Homo sapiens: one gene and its partners. The protein of the gene in region 1 purifies or fractionates together with the protein of each later gene. This does not show direct contact. Each region holds a gene or a part of one and is shown in the gene's direction. Other genes may lie near its edges.

What was found. Proteins that work in one complex are often made in the same cells at the same time.
Region 2: the proteins of SRP9 (region 1) and TRMT61A purify together in Homo sapiens (affinity purification with mass spectrometry; 2 studies listed by BioGRID and IntAct, with this or other methods). This does not show direct contact.
Region 3: the proteins of SRP9 (region 1) and EPB41L2 purify together in Homo sapiens (affinity purification with mass spectrometry; one large-scale study listed by BioGRID and IntAct). This does not show direct contact.
Region 4: the proteins of SRP9 (region 1) and NOL7 purify together in Homo sapiens (affinity purification with mass spectrometry; one large-scale study listed by BioGRID and IntAct). This does not show direct contact.

Annotation. Positions count from the first base shown.
Region 1 is NC_000001.11:225,784,326-225,787,825, forward strand, and holds part of SRP9 (signal recognition particle 9 kDa protein), read left to right. Parts: intron 1-2,536; coding exon of another isoform or gene 2,537-2,644; exon of another isoform or gene 2,645-2,660; intron 2,661-3,500. UniProt on the Homo sapiens protein: Component of the signal recognition particle (SRP) complex, a ribonucleoprotein complex that mediates the cotranslational targeting of secretory and membrane proteins to the endoplasmic reticulum (ER).
Region 2 is NC_000014.9:103,527,764-103,531,995, forward strand, and holds the start of TRMT61A (tRNA (adenine(58)-N(1))-methyltransferase catalytic subunit TRMT61A), read left to right. Parts: upstream 1-1,432; 5' UTR 1,433-1,498; intron 1,499-2,186; 5' UTR 2,187-2,215; coding exon 2,216-2,546; intron 2,547-4,232. UniProt on the Homo sapiens protein: Catalytic subunit of tRNA (adenine-N(1)-)-methyltransferase, which catalyzes the formation of N(1)-methyladenine at position 58 (m1A58) in initiator methionyl-tRNA.
Region 3 is NC_000006.12:130,841,047-130,843,245, reverse strand, and holds part of EPB41L2 (band 4.1-like protein 2), read left to right. Parts: intron 1-2,199. UniProt on the Homo sapiens protein: Required for dynein-dynactin complex and NUMA1 recruitment at the mitotic cell cortex during anaphase.
Region 4 is NC_000006.12:13,613,981-13,618,134, forward strand, and holds the start of NOL7 (U3 small nucleolar RNA-associated protein NOL7), read left to right. Parts: upstream 1-1,354; 5' UTR 1,355-1,378; coding exon 1,379-1,644; intron 1,645-1,731; coding exon 1,732-1,792; intron 1,793-2,482; coding exon 2,483-2,541; intron 2,542-3,789; coding exon 3,790-3,821; intron 3,822-4,077; coding exon 4,078-4,154.

The DNA of each region.
Region 1 (3,500 bases):
AAGCTCTGCCTCCCGGGTTCATGCCATTCTTCTGCCTCAGCCTCCCGAGTAGCTGGGACTACAGGCACCCACCACCACGCCCAGCTAATTTTTTTTTGTATTTTTAGTAGAGACAGGGTTTCACCATGTTGGCCAGGATGATCTGGATCTCCTGACCTCGTGATCCACCCGTCTCGGCCTCCGAAAATGGTGGGATTACAGGCATGAACCACCCCACCCGGCCTATCATCTGTTCTTAAACTAGCTCTTTCTCATGCCTGTAATCCCAGCATTTTGGAAGGTCAAGTGGGCAGATCACAAGGTCAGGAGATCGAGACCATCCTGGCTAACACGGTGAAACCCCATCTCTACTAAAAATACAAAAAAATTAGCCAGGCATGGTGGCGGGCACCTGTAGTCCCAGCTACTCAGGAGGCTGAGGCAGGAGAATGGCATAAACCTGGGAGGTGGAGCTTGCAGTGAGCAGAGATCGTGCCACTGCACTCCAGCCTGGGTGACACAGCAAGACTCCATCTCAAAAAAACAAACAAAAAAACTAGCTGCTTCTTCTGTTCCTACCTTCCTACCTTTAGTTGCATTATTTTCCACGTGGTCAGAAATCTGGGGATTTTTTTTAATTAAAAAAATTTTTTTAGAGACAGGATATCGCTATGTTGCCCAGGCTGGTCTTGAACTCCTGGCTTCAAGCAGTCCTCCCACTCAGCCTCCCAAGTTGCTGGGATTACACACATGGGCCACAGTGCACAGCCCAGAGTGATTTCTATTTAGACGGAGTCTCGCTCTGTTGCAAGGCTGGAGTGCAGTGGGCGATCTCTGCTCACTGCAGCCTCCACCTCCTGGGTTCAAGTGATTCTCCTGCCTCAGCCTCCTGAGTAGCTGGGACTACAGCCGTGCACCACCACGCCCAACTAATTTTTTTTTTTTTTTTTTTTAGTAGAGACGGGGTTTTCACCATGTTGACCAGGATGGTCTCCATCTCTTTACCTCATGATCCACCCACCTTGGCCTCTGAAAGTGCTGAGATTACAGGGGTGAGCCACTGCGCCTGGCCTTTTCTTTTTATTTGTTTGTTTGTTTGATGGAGTCTCGCTCTGTCGCCCAGGCTGGAGTGCAGTGGCGCAATCTCGGCTCACTGCAAACTGCCTCCTGGGTTCACGCCATTCTCCTGCCTCAGCCTCCTGAGTAGCTGGGACTACAGGCGCCCGCCACCACGCCTGGCTAATTTTGTGTATTTTTAGTAGAGACGGGGTTTCACCCTGTTAGCCAGGATGGTCTCGAACTCCTGACCTCGTGATCTGCCCGCCTTGGCCTCCCAAAGTGTTGGGATTATAGGCGTGAGCCACTGTGCCTGGACTTTTTTTTTTTTTTTTTTTTAAAGAAGGAGTCTGGCTCTATTACCCAGACTGGAGTGCAATGGTTCATTCTTGGCTCACTGCAACCTCTGCCTTCCGGGTTCAAGCAATTCTCCTGCCTCGGCCTCCCAAGTAGGTGGGATTACAGGTGGGCACCACCACACCCAGCTAATTTTTGTATTTTTAGTAGAGATGAGATTTCACCATGTCGCCCAGGCGGCTGGAGTTGAACTCCTGACCTCAAGCGATCCACCCACCTCGGCCTCCCAAAGTGCTGGGATTACAGGTGTGATCCACCACGCCCAGCCCCAGAGTGATTTCTGAAAGGCTAATTTGATTGTTACTCCCTTGCTTAGAAACCTTTAAACTCCACCCTTGCATCCTCTCTAATCTCTGTCATTTCTGTATTATGTAAGAGCTCCTTTAATGTGCTGTGATGTGTTAGGCCTCAGTGCTTTCAAACATTCTGTTTCCTCCTTTGCAATATTGAATCCCACCTCCACCCCTAATGTGGCCAGACTGCTGCTTATCTTTCAAAACCCAACTTGAGGATTACTTCATTTCTTGCTTTTCATTTTGGCTTTTTGTGCTGTATCACAATTCTTTTATCACATTTGTCTTTTTAATAGACTGCCCTTCAAGACAATAGAGATAGATCAGTAATATTCTTACATGTCTTATTTCCATTGCCTACTATGATGTCTTGACCCAGAGAGCACTCAGTAAACATTTTTTAAATAGTTAGTTCTTTTGAAAATTTTATAGAGTGATTTTAAAAATCACTTTTTGTCTTTGGTCATATATTGTATTTGTGTTCAGGGTTCCATTATGATGAGACTGCATGAAGTTAGACCTTTTAGTGATTACCATGTCTTCTAAGAACCAATTGAATGTAGTGAGTAGCTAAACATGTGGAAAAGGAAGAGTGAATCGAGATGTAGTATACTAGACATAGATTGAAGAGATGTGAATCCTAGCTTAGTCATTTACTAGCATTTTGGCCTTGGAAAAGTTTAGGCCAAAAATTTAGCCTTCTGGTCTCAATTTCCTCATCTGTAAAGTATCATAGTGATAGTAAAAAAATATATGAAAGTATCTAACATGAGTGCTTACCCTTGGTAGATTGAGTACATGTATTCTTTTGTTTGTTGATTGGTTGGTTGATTGCTTTTTTTTTTTTTTAGAGACAGTGTCTTGCTCTATTGCTCAGGCTGCAGTGCAGTGGCATGATCATAGCTCACTGCATCCTCGACCTCCTGGGCTCAAGCGGTCCTCTTGCTTCAGCCTCCTGAATAGCAGAGACTACAGGTGTGCACCACCACACTCAGCTAATTTTTAAATTTTTTTGTCAAGACAGGGTCTCATTATATTGCCCAGGTTGATCTGGAACTCCTGGACTCAAGCCATCTTTCTGCCTTAGCCTCCCAAACCACTGGGATTATGGGTGTGAACCACTAAGTACTTCTTAAATCTTGACATTCCACACAGAAAAATTTTAATTGTGATTGTCACAGAGTGGTTAGGTATACTTGCTGAAGAAAAACCCCTATGTCCTGTCTTAAAAATAGGGGAATAGGCCGGGCGCGGTGGCTCGTGCTGGTAATCCCAGCATTTTGGGAGGCTGAGGTGGGCGGATCATGAGGTCAGGAGTTCGAGACCAGCCTGACCAACACAGTGAAACCCCGTCTCTACTAAAAATACAAATATTAGCATGGTGGTGGGTGCCTGTAATCTCAGCTACTTGGGAGGCTGAGGCAGGAGAATCGCTTGAACCTGGGACTGGGAGGCAGAGGTTGCAATGAGCCAAGATTGTGCCACTGCACTCTAGCCTGGGTGACAGAACTAGACTCGGTCTCAAAAAAAATAAAATAAGGGAATAAATGCAGAACGAATTTTAATACAAAAGGCCTTATCTCCAATTGATGGCTCTTTTTGCCCTGTTAATGATTGAATATAATTAAGGATCCATGTTAACTTCGACTTTTTTATAATCCCATGTATCCATCATTTTTCTAATCCCATAATTGATTTAGAATACTGTCTTCTATGGACCTAAAATCTTTTTCTGTCAGAAATTTCAGTGAGAAGGTATGTACATTCTCTCATAGGACATGTGCTAAAATTTTGATGATGAAGATTAATATGGCC
Region 2 (4,232 bases), on another chromosome or scaffold:
GGCCAGCGTGGTGGCCCCACAGGGACAGGAGCCCACAGAGAGTGGGAGGCCATGGAAGGCCTCTCACCAGCTTACTCCTGGGGGCTCTCAGCCGCAGCTAGGGCAGGGACACAGAGGGGCTGAGGTTGGACCCCTAGGTTTCCATGATGGACCCTGAGAAGCCAATGCAAGGGCCACAAACAGCCTGGCCTGGCCTGCCCCAGAGGCGAGAGAGTTGAGAGTGCTCTACAGGCTGCCAGGGCTCCAGAGGGGAGCTCGCTCTGCAGGAGCCTGGCCACCTCATCTTACCAGGCTGGAGTGGCTGAGTGACTGGGGAGGGTGCCCTAGGGTCATTGCTAACTGGCTTGGGTTCGGGCGCAGGCTAAACCCTAGGCTGGGTAGGGGGGTCTCTGTTCCTCTCCAAGCTCTGGTCCTGAGAGCTAAGAGCTGGAGGAAGAAAATCCGTGTCCCCTGCCCCCGCTCCCCTGCACACACACTCCACAGAGGAGCCAGCTGGGAATGGTGTTGCTGAGACAGAACGCCACTCCCGCTTCCCTGTTCTGCCCATCCTCCAGCAGCACCTCCTCCAGTCTCCTGCCCAGGCTGCTCACCAGACCCAAAAGTGGGCCCAAGTCATCCAGTTCTCATTATGCCTTGGTTCGCAGGAGGGGACACAGGACCCCTACTCCCTCCTAGAAGCAGCTCTGCACTCAGGACAACGTGCCCCCGTCGGGGGAGGCAGGGCCTGGGCGGAAGGCCACTTCTGCAGACTTTTCCAGGCCCCCATCTGCTGCACAGAGCTCTGGCTGACCCTAGCCCAAGCCTTTTAGAACCGCCCCTTGACCTGCGATTCCTTTTCTGGAATTCATTTTAGGGCCCAGTCAGGGGTGTTCCCAGAGCAGTCTGCAATAACAAAATGTCTATGGCGAAGTGTCCTCATAGAGGACTGGGCAGTGAGCCACGGGCCAGCCCTCTGGTGAACCCCCAGGGGCCGTCAAAGGGGTCCGGGACAGCAGTGACAGCCAGGCCTTGGCTCCTGCCGCCCTTCAAATGTGCCTGGGTGCGACGGCAACCCGCGGCCGGCGGGGCGGGGGGACCTTTTGTTTGTTTGTTATTATTTGTAGAGATGGTGGGGGTCTCACTACGTTTCCCGGGCTGGTCTCGAACTCTTCAGCTCAGAAGAACCTCCCGCCTCGGCCTCCCAAAGCGCGGGATCACAGGCGAGAGCCACCGCGCCGGCCGGCCGCCATATGGATTTTGTCCAGTCTTTCGATCTTCCAGCGACCAGCAAATGTAAACAGAGCAGCTCACATGAGGGAAGAAGTCGCCCAGGAAACGTCCTCTGGGAGGGGCGGGAAGGGCAGCCTGGCGCTCCCAGGATCCCGTGCGCGGAGGGGGGGAGGGGGAGGCGGAGGCGGGGCGCGACGTCATCAGCGGGCGCGGAGCCGGAAGTGTTGTGGCCGCCGCCGCCGCGCGTCGCGGAGGCACGTGTGGAGCCCCGGCAGCAGGAGCGTCGCAGGTGAGACTCCGCGGGGTACAGGGTGGCAGGGCGCGGGTGAGGGTGACCCGGGCCGGGCACGGCGCGCAGGGCCTGTCCCTCCAGCCTCGCATGGGCGGCCCCCGCCGGCCCGGCCTGGCCCCTTGTTGCCTCTGCATCGGCTGGGCGGTGTTTGCGTGGACGGCCAGCTCCGCGTCCCCAGCCCCTTACTGGGGAGCCCTGAATCCTCTGTCATACCCTGCCACCTAGCCCCCGTGGGGGAGACTGGGGTGAGGAATCAAGCCTGGCTTGGAGGTGACCTCATTGACCATTTGCCTCTCCCCCGCCGGTGGACACCTCGCAAAGGCGCTTCCTCATCTCACATCTTGGGAATGGGAGTCAAGCTCCTGGAGAAGGGTGATGGGAGGGTCGGGTCCTCACTCCGGGAATCCTTGGGACCGAACTCCGCCATTGCCAAGCCTCAGTCTTTTCATCTCTGATTTAGGCTCATAGTCCCTGTCTCTTGTCCTAGACCAAGAAAGGCTTCAGAGGCCAGGCCAGAGTGCAGCGCTATTGGGCTCCCTGTCAGGCAGTGGCAGAGACTGAGGCTGAGCTAGCCACACCCCGCCCATGCCCACTGCTGGGATGTAGGCCTCGAAGCCTTCTACCTAGACCCTAGGCCCTCATCCTGCCTCCTGACTTGCTCATGCCTACACACACCCCTCCCCAGGTCCTTGGCCCTTGCCAGACATTAGCACCATGAGCTTCGTGGCATACGAGGAGCTGATCAAGGAGGGTGACACGGCCATCCTGTCACTGGGCCATGGTGCAATGGTGGCGGTGCGTGTGCAGCGTGGGGCACAGACCCAGACCCGGCATGGTGTCCTGCGGCACTCAGTTGACCTTATCGGCCGCCCCTTCGGCTCCAAGGTGACGTGCGGCCGAGGTGGCTGGGTGTATGTGCTGCACCCCACGCCCGAGCTCTGGACGCTGAACCTGCCGCACCGCACGCAGATCCTCTACTCCACAGACATCGCCCTCATCACCATGATGTTGGAGCTTCGGCCCGGCTCTGTGGTCTGTGAGTCTGGTGAGTTCCTCAGGCTGCCTCAGTTTAACGCAGAAATTGACACAAAGGTGGAGGTCAGAGCCTCCAGCCTGCCCTTCCTACAGACACATGTGGCTCCTCAGTTTCTATTTTCACATCTTTCCGGGATGCTGACAGCAGGGAGTGAAGGTGGAGGCAGAGAAGCCCGTTAGGAGGCTGGTGCTGTAACTGGAGTGAGAGGTGGTGGGAAATGGACCAGGAGGAGCTGGGGAGGACTGGTGCTCTAGTGAGGGTCCTGCTTGCCTTGGTGGGGCGTGGCCAGCTTGATGCTTGGCGCTGTCCTAGGTACTGACCGTCAACCTCTAGTCCTCCGTGCTGATGGTGAAGCAGAGAGAGTTGCCCCTTCTGGAAAGAGGCCAGGGCTACCCCGAGGAGCTCACTGTAGGTGGGGAGCCTTCCCCATCCTCATCCATGATCAGATCCTCACCTGCTACCAATGAATGTGAGCACCATTGTTGAGTCCAGGGCCTGGGCTGTGGGAACCCCTGCACATATACAGGTGCTGGGGCCGCCCAGTGTGGCGATTGAAGCCAAGATTGGCCCCAGGCGCTGATGCATCTAGGTTGTTGGTGGCGTGTTCCTCCCGGGCAGGAGAGCTAGGGTCCAGGTTCACGAAGAGTGCCTAGCACTGCCATGCTGGCTTTCTGAGGGCTGCAGGTCACCATGTCCCTCCCTGGGGTGTCTGGGTGGGAGGGGTGGAGAGCAGGACTTAGCCAACTCCATCAGCTGCTGCTCCTGTGCATCCTGTGGTGGGTGCTGGCCTCTCCGCCCCTGCCCCACTCTCGCGAGAGAGCTCAATCAAGCAGCACCTTCTCCTGGCCTCCTCAGATATGCCAGGTCCCCTCCTAGGAACCGTGAACTAGAGAGACCAGGTTCCTGCCCTCGAGGAGGGGGACACAGCCTAGGTGAGCATCTCAGTGCCGCTGGTTGCTGTGAAGCCTGTGAGACAGGGCTGCGTGTCTGAGGGGTACCCAGAGTGGGGACTCTCCAGCTAGGCCAGGCAGGGAAGACCTCTCTGAGGAGGGGACATTTGAGTTGAAAATGATGAGGAGGGACCTACGAAGAGCCAAGGGACAGCTCTGCACCAAGGAGGAGCCGTGCCGAGGCCCTGCAGTTGGAGCATGCTGCCGAGTCAGGCTCAGTGGGGGAGGCAGAGGGGCTGGGAGTGAGGTTGGAGGGGAAGCGAGCTCCACCCCGGAGGCTAACAAGTCTGACTTGCCCCTTAGTGGGAAGGGGGCATGGCCAGGCTTTGCAGAGGGGCGAGGCAGCAGGCTGGGGGCACCCAGGGGAGGGGCTGGACAGGTGGGGAGAGGGGCTGGCCCCTGAAAGGAATGTGGGAGGTGGCAGGACGTGGGACGGGATAGAGGGAGTGGAGGCACCTCCATGGGTCTGGCCCAAGCACTTGCGATGCTCAGCGCTATTTGGGTTCCAGGCATGGGTGGCAAGTGTGCAGTGGCTGCTCTAGCAGGAGTCTCCAGTGGAGGGGCCTGGGGATGGGAGTGGCATCAGGTAGATGGCCCCTGAAGCTGGAGTGGGAGGAGGGATGCAAGCCTTGACCCTCTCCATAAGACAGGAAGTCAAGCAGAGGGGCCATCTTGAGGGAAGCTGGGGAGGGAAGCTGGGGGCAGGTGCGCTGGGGAGGACTGGGGCCGTGTGGCTGGTGGCCAG
Region 3 (2,199 bases), on another chromosome or scaffold:
TTATGTAGCAGTGACATTGGTGATTCTGTCTTTATCTTTTCTCTTTTCTAGCTCAAAAGCTAACTGTTTAGTACTTAGGAACGTATTTCTACATGTGTTTAAGTGCAAGAAACAGTCAAAAAAGATAAGTGGATATGTAAATAAAGTCTTCGTACAATAAGTTACTTCTTGTTCATCCACGCCAATAAGGAACTGGGATGTTTTGACACAATATCTAATAACTCAGAGTTAAACTTGATTTACTGATTTTTAAAGAATGAGAAAATAAATAAGTTTTAACATTAAAATGGCAATAAAATGATTCTGAAAGCTGTTTGGAATCCTAAGAGCACATGAAGGTTATCATTTATAATATTCATTACCAGAAAAAAAGTTTATTAATGGAAATAAATTACATTTTGAGTTTATTTGGGTAACTATGTCTTTTTCTCTATATTTAGCTCAGTAAATGTTGAAGTTTTTTGAGATCAAGATCCCTTCAATTCCAACATATGCTTAGTTTCCTGTAATAACTTTGAAACAAGTTTAATTTTAGCTTTTCTTTACAAATTTATGACTCATTACAAAGTGAAATTTTTATTTTTGATGAAAACAGATGCAAAGCAATAAAGTGACATAGGGCCTAGAGAAAATGGAGACTAGAATCCTAAACATTGTTCTCTCTGTAGGTTTTCAGGCCCTGATAGCATCAGGGGTTTGTTTTTTTAATAACATAAACTAGGCAAAATGGCAGCTGTGTTCAACAAATGATGCATATTTACTAAACAAAGCAAATGGAAATACCAGCTCTGAAGGAACAAGAACAGGTTCCATGACTGAAGGTGTCATATAACTGCCAAATCCAATTTGATTGGTAATTGTATCCATTTCCCTTCATCATCCCCCACATTTCTTTTCATAATTACTAACCTAAAAAAAGACTTTCTATTTTCTCCATTGATTTTTTTTTCCCCCAGCCTAGAATCAAACAGAAGTACTAATGAGTAATGAAATAACCTAAGGCAGACAACAGGGTAGAAAACAATGAAGTTGATTAATCAATCTGTCCTGAATAATCAAGAGGCTTTAATATTATCTGTGATAAATCTAAATGGTAGGAACTTTTTTCATTAAAGCAAGACTTAATTTTACCTAACCAAAAGAGTGTACATTCTAATTGACTTTGGGAGCAGTGTCTCTTGGAAAAGACGTTAATTACCACTCTGCACTGTCCTTTGTGATTACCTATCATTTGCCAAAACTTCCAACCAAGTTCAAATATAAAATGAAACAATTGCCACCTTAAAACCCTTTTCTCTTTCAGGGCCATTGCACCATCATGGGTTTTTTAAAAAGTCTTCTCCACTTACCTTTGATTGTGGACTTCTGCAAGACTCTGTGGCTTTCATTTATTCCTATGCTCACATGAGACTTAGTTCTATCTGTTGGTTTCACTTATCCCTTGTTCTGATGCCCAAATCTATATCCCTAGGTCTAATGCTTCACCCAGGCTGTAAGCCTTCATTCTCTCCTTTTTTTGAGGTCCCAGACTCCAAACCTTATCATCCTGTCTTATACTTACTTCTTAACCACCACACTCTGATTATTCTCCTTAGTGGTGCCTCTCAAATTTCTCTCCCACCTGATTTCTGTGGTGACCACTCAAGTCTGGGTCCTGGCCATCTGGCAGGAATGCCTGACATTTGTCATCTTCCTCATCCAGCTGGACTCCTGCACTGGTCTCCTGACTGTTGTTCCTGCCTCTACTCCTTGCCGGCTTCAGCTTATTCATCACACTGAAGCCACAGCAGTGTTTTCAAAACGTAAATCACACCATGACAAACCCTTCCTCAAAACCAAAGAAGAAACGATCCCAACCTCCTTTCCTGGGCTTATCATGCCCTGCATGACTGGCCAACCCCAAGTTCTTTGACCAGTCTTCTATCTCTCTGTGGCTCTTGCACTCTGCCCTGGACCATTGTAGTAGATTGCCAACTGGTCTTTTCGTCCAAATGTTTTTTCTTAATTCATTTTTTTTTTTTTTTGGTCAATTAGATCAAGCTGGTACTTCTCAGTCTATTAAAGAATAGACCTAATATTTTGTACCTTTATTTACTACTCACTATACCAATGCTCAACTTTAGTAATGTCCCTTTCTTCACCGTCCTATTCCTTCCATTCGTTTCTGCCTCCTCCCCCAACATACATCTTACTGTCATA
Region 4 (4,154 bases), on another chromosome or scaffold:
TTGTTGTTGTTGTTTTCAAGTTTTATCATTTTTGTTCCTATTTGGTTTTGTCGTTTTTAAATTGAGAATTGCTTCTAAAACAGAAGACATGAAAAGAGAATTAAAAATACAATATATGTGTAAGATAGAATTATTCAACTTAGCATTTATTAAACATCTACCAGATGATAGACATTAGAAATAAAATGACTAGCAAGACCTGGCCCTTCCCCTCAGGGGTTCACAGAATGGCTGGAGCAACTGTCATATAAGCTGTTATGAAGTGCAGAAACTACACAGACATTTGTGCGGGTTCAGACCAGCGCAATTAGAGATGGGCAGAGTGGGATGGGGTAGGGGTAAGGTGCTTGAAATTTGCCTGGGTGGGAATTTTTGAAGTATAAAAAGGACTTCTACCTGGGGGGCTGCGGCAGTAGAGGGAAGAGCACGGTCGGTACAAATGCATGGCAGGTGTGAAACAGTTTGATTTGTTCAAAGAATGATGAATCACTTAGTGTTGTATAATGGATGGGAGGAGAGAAACACAGCGATCACAAAGGGCCATGTTTGCCAAGAAATAAAATATACTTGGAAAAAAAGTACGTATGTGTATATACCACAAAACTCGGGTGCATTCTCTAGGGACCGGCGAAGCCATTCTTTCAGGAGATATGCTCAGCATTTGCCACGGGCCAGCTGCTGTTCCAGGTCGTGGGTTAGGGCCCGGCACCAGGAAGGGCGCCCCTCCCACAGGGCCGACATCCTAACCGGCGTCGCTGCGGCCGCGGAGCTGGGAAGGCCGAGGGCGCCGGGCACGTCTGTGCAGATTTCTTTAGAGTCCAGGTCTGTCGCCCGCGTCTTCGTCGGTGGCAGCAGGGCTGACTGGCCACGGCGGCCATCTGCTAGAGCGCATTTCTTCCCATGAAACGCCACCTCCTCCGAAGTGCGGAGCGAACGCAGCCAAATCTACACAAAGACTGACAAGCTGGATCCACTCGACGGAACCCAGGGCCAAAAAACGGCGGCGAGCAGCGCCTCGGGCCCGCGATTACCGGTTTTCTGAGCACCGGACAGCGTGAGCCGTGCCAGCCCTGTCTCGCCATCCCAGCCGAGGAGGGCAGCGCGATGGCTCTTCCCTGCCTTGAAATCAACCCCATTGCCAGCCGCTTTCGCCGGCAGAGCATTTTCCGTGGGGTCCATCCGGCTCCAAGGCGGCCTGCGCTGGCCACGTGGAAAGAAACACGCCCACTGCCTACAGGCCACGCCCTTCCTCCCTTCGCGCATGCGCCCCACCCGTCCTGAGGACCTCCGAACCTGCAGGGGGCGATGAAAGTAGGCTTGCGCTCCGCTTGTAGCTGCTTCCGGGTCAGAGGTCAGACGGTCTAGCGCTGCGTGGGCCATGGTGCAGCTCCGACCGCGAGCGTCTCGCGCCCCGGCGTCGGCGGAGGCGATGGTGGACGAGGGCCAGCTGGCCTCGGAGGAGGAGGAGGCGGAGCACGGGCTGTTGCTCGGGCAGCCCAGCAGCGGCGCGGCCGCCGAGCCCCTGGAGGAAGACGAGGAAGGGGACGATGAGTTTGACGATGAGGCCCCGGAGGAGCTGACTTTCGCCAGCGCCCAGGCGGAAGCGAGAGAAGAGGAGCGGCGAGTGCGGGAGACCGTGCGCAGGTTCGGAGCCCGCTGCCCGGCGGGGAGAACCGCCCTTTCTCGTCCCGCTTGTCCTTCCCTTTGCTGACTTATCACCCTTCCTCCCAGGGATAAAACGCTCCTGAAGGAGAAGAGGAAGCGACGCGAGGAGCTGTTCATCGAACAGAAGGTTAGAGGCTAGGGAGGAGGTGTCTTATTAAAACAACTCGGCTCAGGGAGAATTCCTATGGTGGATGTAATTTGGGTTGGCAGGATATTGGAGTGGGGAAACAGTCACCAAGATTGCCTCTGACAGTGGTGGAAAGATGCTCGGGCCGGGCGCGGCAGTACTTTAGTTGGACGAGGTGGGCGGAGCCCGGGATGTCGAGGCTGCCTGGAGCCGAGATCACACCACTGCGCTCCAGCCTGGGCGACAGAGCGAGACCCTGTCTCAAAAAAAAAAAGTTCGTCTCCTTTAGTGTCCACCAACTGAAAATAAGAGGTTGCTGTGAGAATTAAATGAGGTGATTTGTAAACTGTAAGGGCTGTACAGACTTAGTGTATGGTTGCTTTGCTGTCTGATACTCGACACAGAGAGCTGGCTCCAGGCAGACATTACTTAACTGCTTTCAATTTATAACAGTGACCTGAGGGTTAGAATACCGTGGGCACCCTTTCTAGTTTTCATCAAGTCTTTCAGAGAATGTGGAGTTTTGTGGACCCGGTCTTCCCATAGCTTAGAGGTATGGGGGCAGTTTCCAGCCTAATTCATTTCTTTGCCTAGATGTAGGGCATTCTTAAAAGCGGTAACTTCAGAAGCAACTCCGGACATACTATGTACATGACTTTCTATTAATTTTAAACGTTTTCATTCCAAAAGAAAAGAAAACTCCTTCCAGACACTATTTTGGAGAAGTTAACCACAGCTTCACAGACTAAGTAAGTAATGGATCTTTTTATATTACTTGCTTATATACACCCATCTTTGAATTATATACTGGTACATTTATTTGAATCCATATAACTGAAGGAATTGTAGAACCCAAATTCAAAAGCTACCTTGGTATATGAATTTGATGGGAAAGACGGAGGTAACGTTCTACTTCTTATTTTACCATTTATTTTTGTTCATTCCCATAGCTAGCTTTTGAATTCCTGATCCCATTGTGTTCATTCAGTACATTTTGTTGACTGCCTGTCATTGTACTAGGGCATAGTGGGTGGTGGTGAATAAAAAGTGTTTTGAATCATTTAGTGGGGTAGCAGGCACTTATCCACAGGCTCTGAAAACTTGATTTGTCCCATACTTGCCTTACCTGCCACCAACCTGTCCTTCCTGTTCCCCACTTCATTTAGCATCTTTGGTGTTTTATGGTTTAAAGCGAAAAGCTATAGTCGTCTTTGGGAATTGATCAAACCCTACTAAATTTAGCCTTCTAAATTTTTTTTTTTCTATCCTCTTTTTCTCCCCTTAAGGCTTTAAATTCAGAAATTCAGCCCCCTTTTGCTTAGGCCAGTGACTCTCAAGTTTTCAGTAAAAAAACTTTACCAAAGAGTTACTCAGATCCTGAATACATTAAACGTAAGAGCAAATCTATTTGGTGGCAAATTCCCTTTCATCTTTTAAAACCAAGCTCAAGTGTCACCTTTACCTTCTCATTTGCCCCCCCCCACCTCCCATCACTTCCGCTTTTGTGTGGCCTTTCTCCTGTGCAAATGCTTCTGTATTGTATTCTGTCCATTTACATTTCTCTCTCCATTGGGCCACAGCCCCCTTGAGGCTGTTCCCTGTCTCCTGTGCCTAAACTATTAAATTAATCCTTTGTGATTTCTCCAAATGAAATGAGGCAGACCTACTCCCATTCACTTCATATTTCAAATACTTTATAACTTGTTCTGAACAAGTGTTTCACTTGAACTCCATTGCCCACAGCATTTTGCTGCTTTGAAAGCCTGCTAATAGGCTCTCAGATTTTAACTGTGAAGATCTTCCAATGCTTGAGAGTTGGTGGCAGTGTACTAGGGAGTGACTATTGCTTTCCAAACTGATGAGAGCTCCTGAGTAGAAATTGAGGGTGTTGGTAATGAAAGGGGGTGTCTTACTTGTAAAGGCAAATGAAATAATATAACATGTTTTGAGTAATCTTTACTGCCATTGCAGTCAGTGGTTTTGTTTTTTTTCCTTAGCATCAAGAAATCGCCAGGAAAGGTGAAAGAAGGTATGACTATTCTAATTTAACTAACTTCTCATGTAAGTGTCAAGTGCACTTGCAGATGTTTCCAGTCAAATATGAATGGCCCTTAGAAAGCCAGCATGGGCCTGGCCAAGGTTAGCTGGGGCCTATTCCCTGTATTTCATACAAATAAAAACTGCATCCACATTGGTGTGTAGTGGATGCTTAAAGTGAACTCCAGTAAATTTCCTGATTTATTTTTACGTGAATGCTAATTAGAAAATGTAACTCTATTTTTTAGTTAATTTGCAAAAGAAAAATGAAGACTGTGAAAAAGGAAATGACTCCAAGAAAGTTAAAGTACAAAAAGTACAGTCT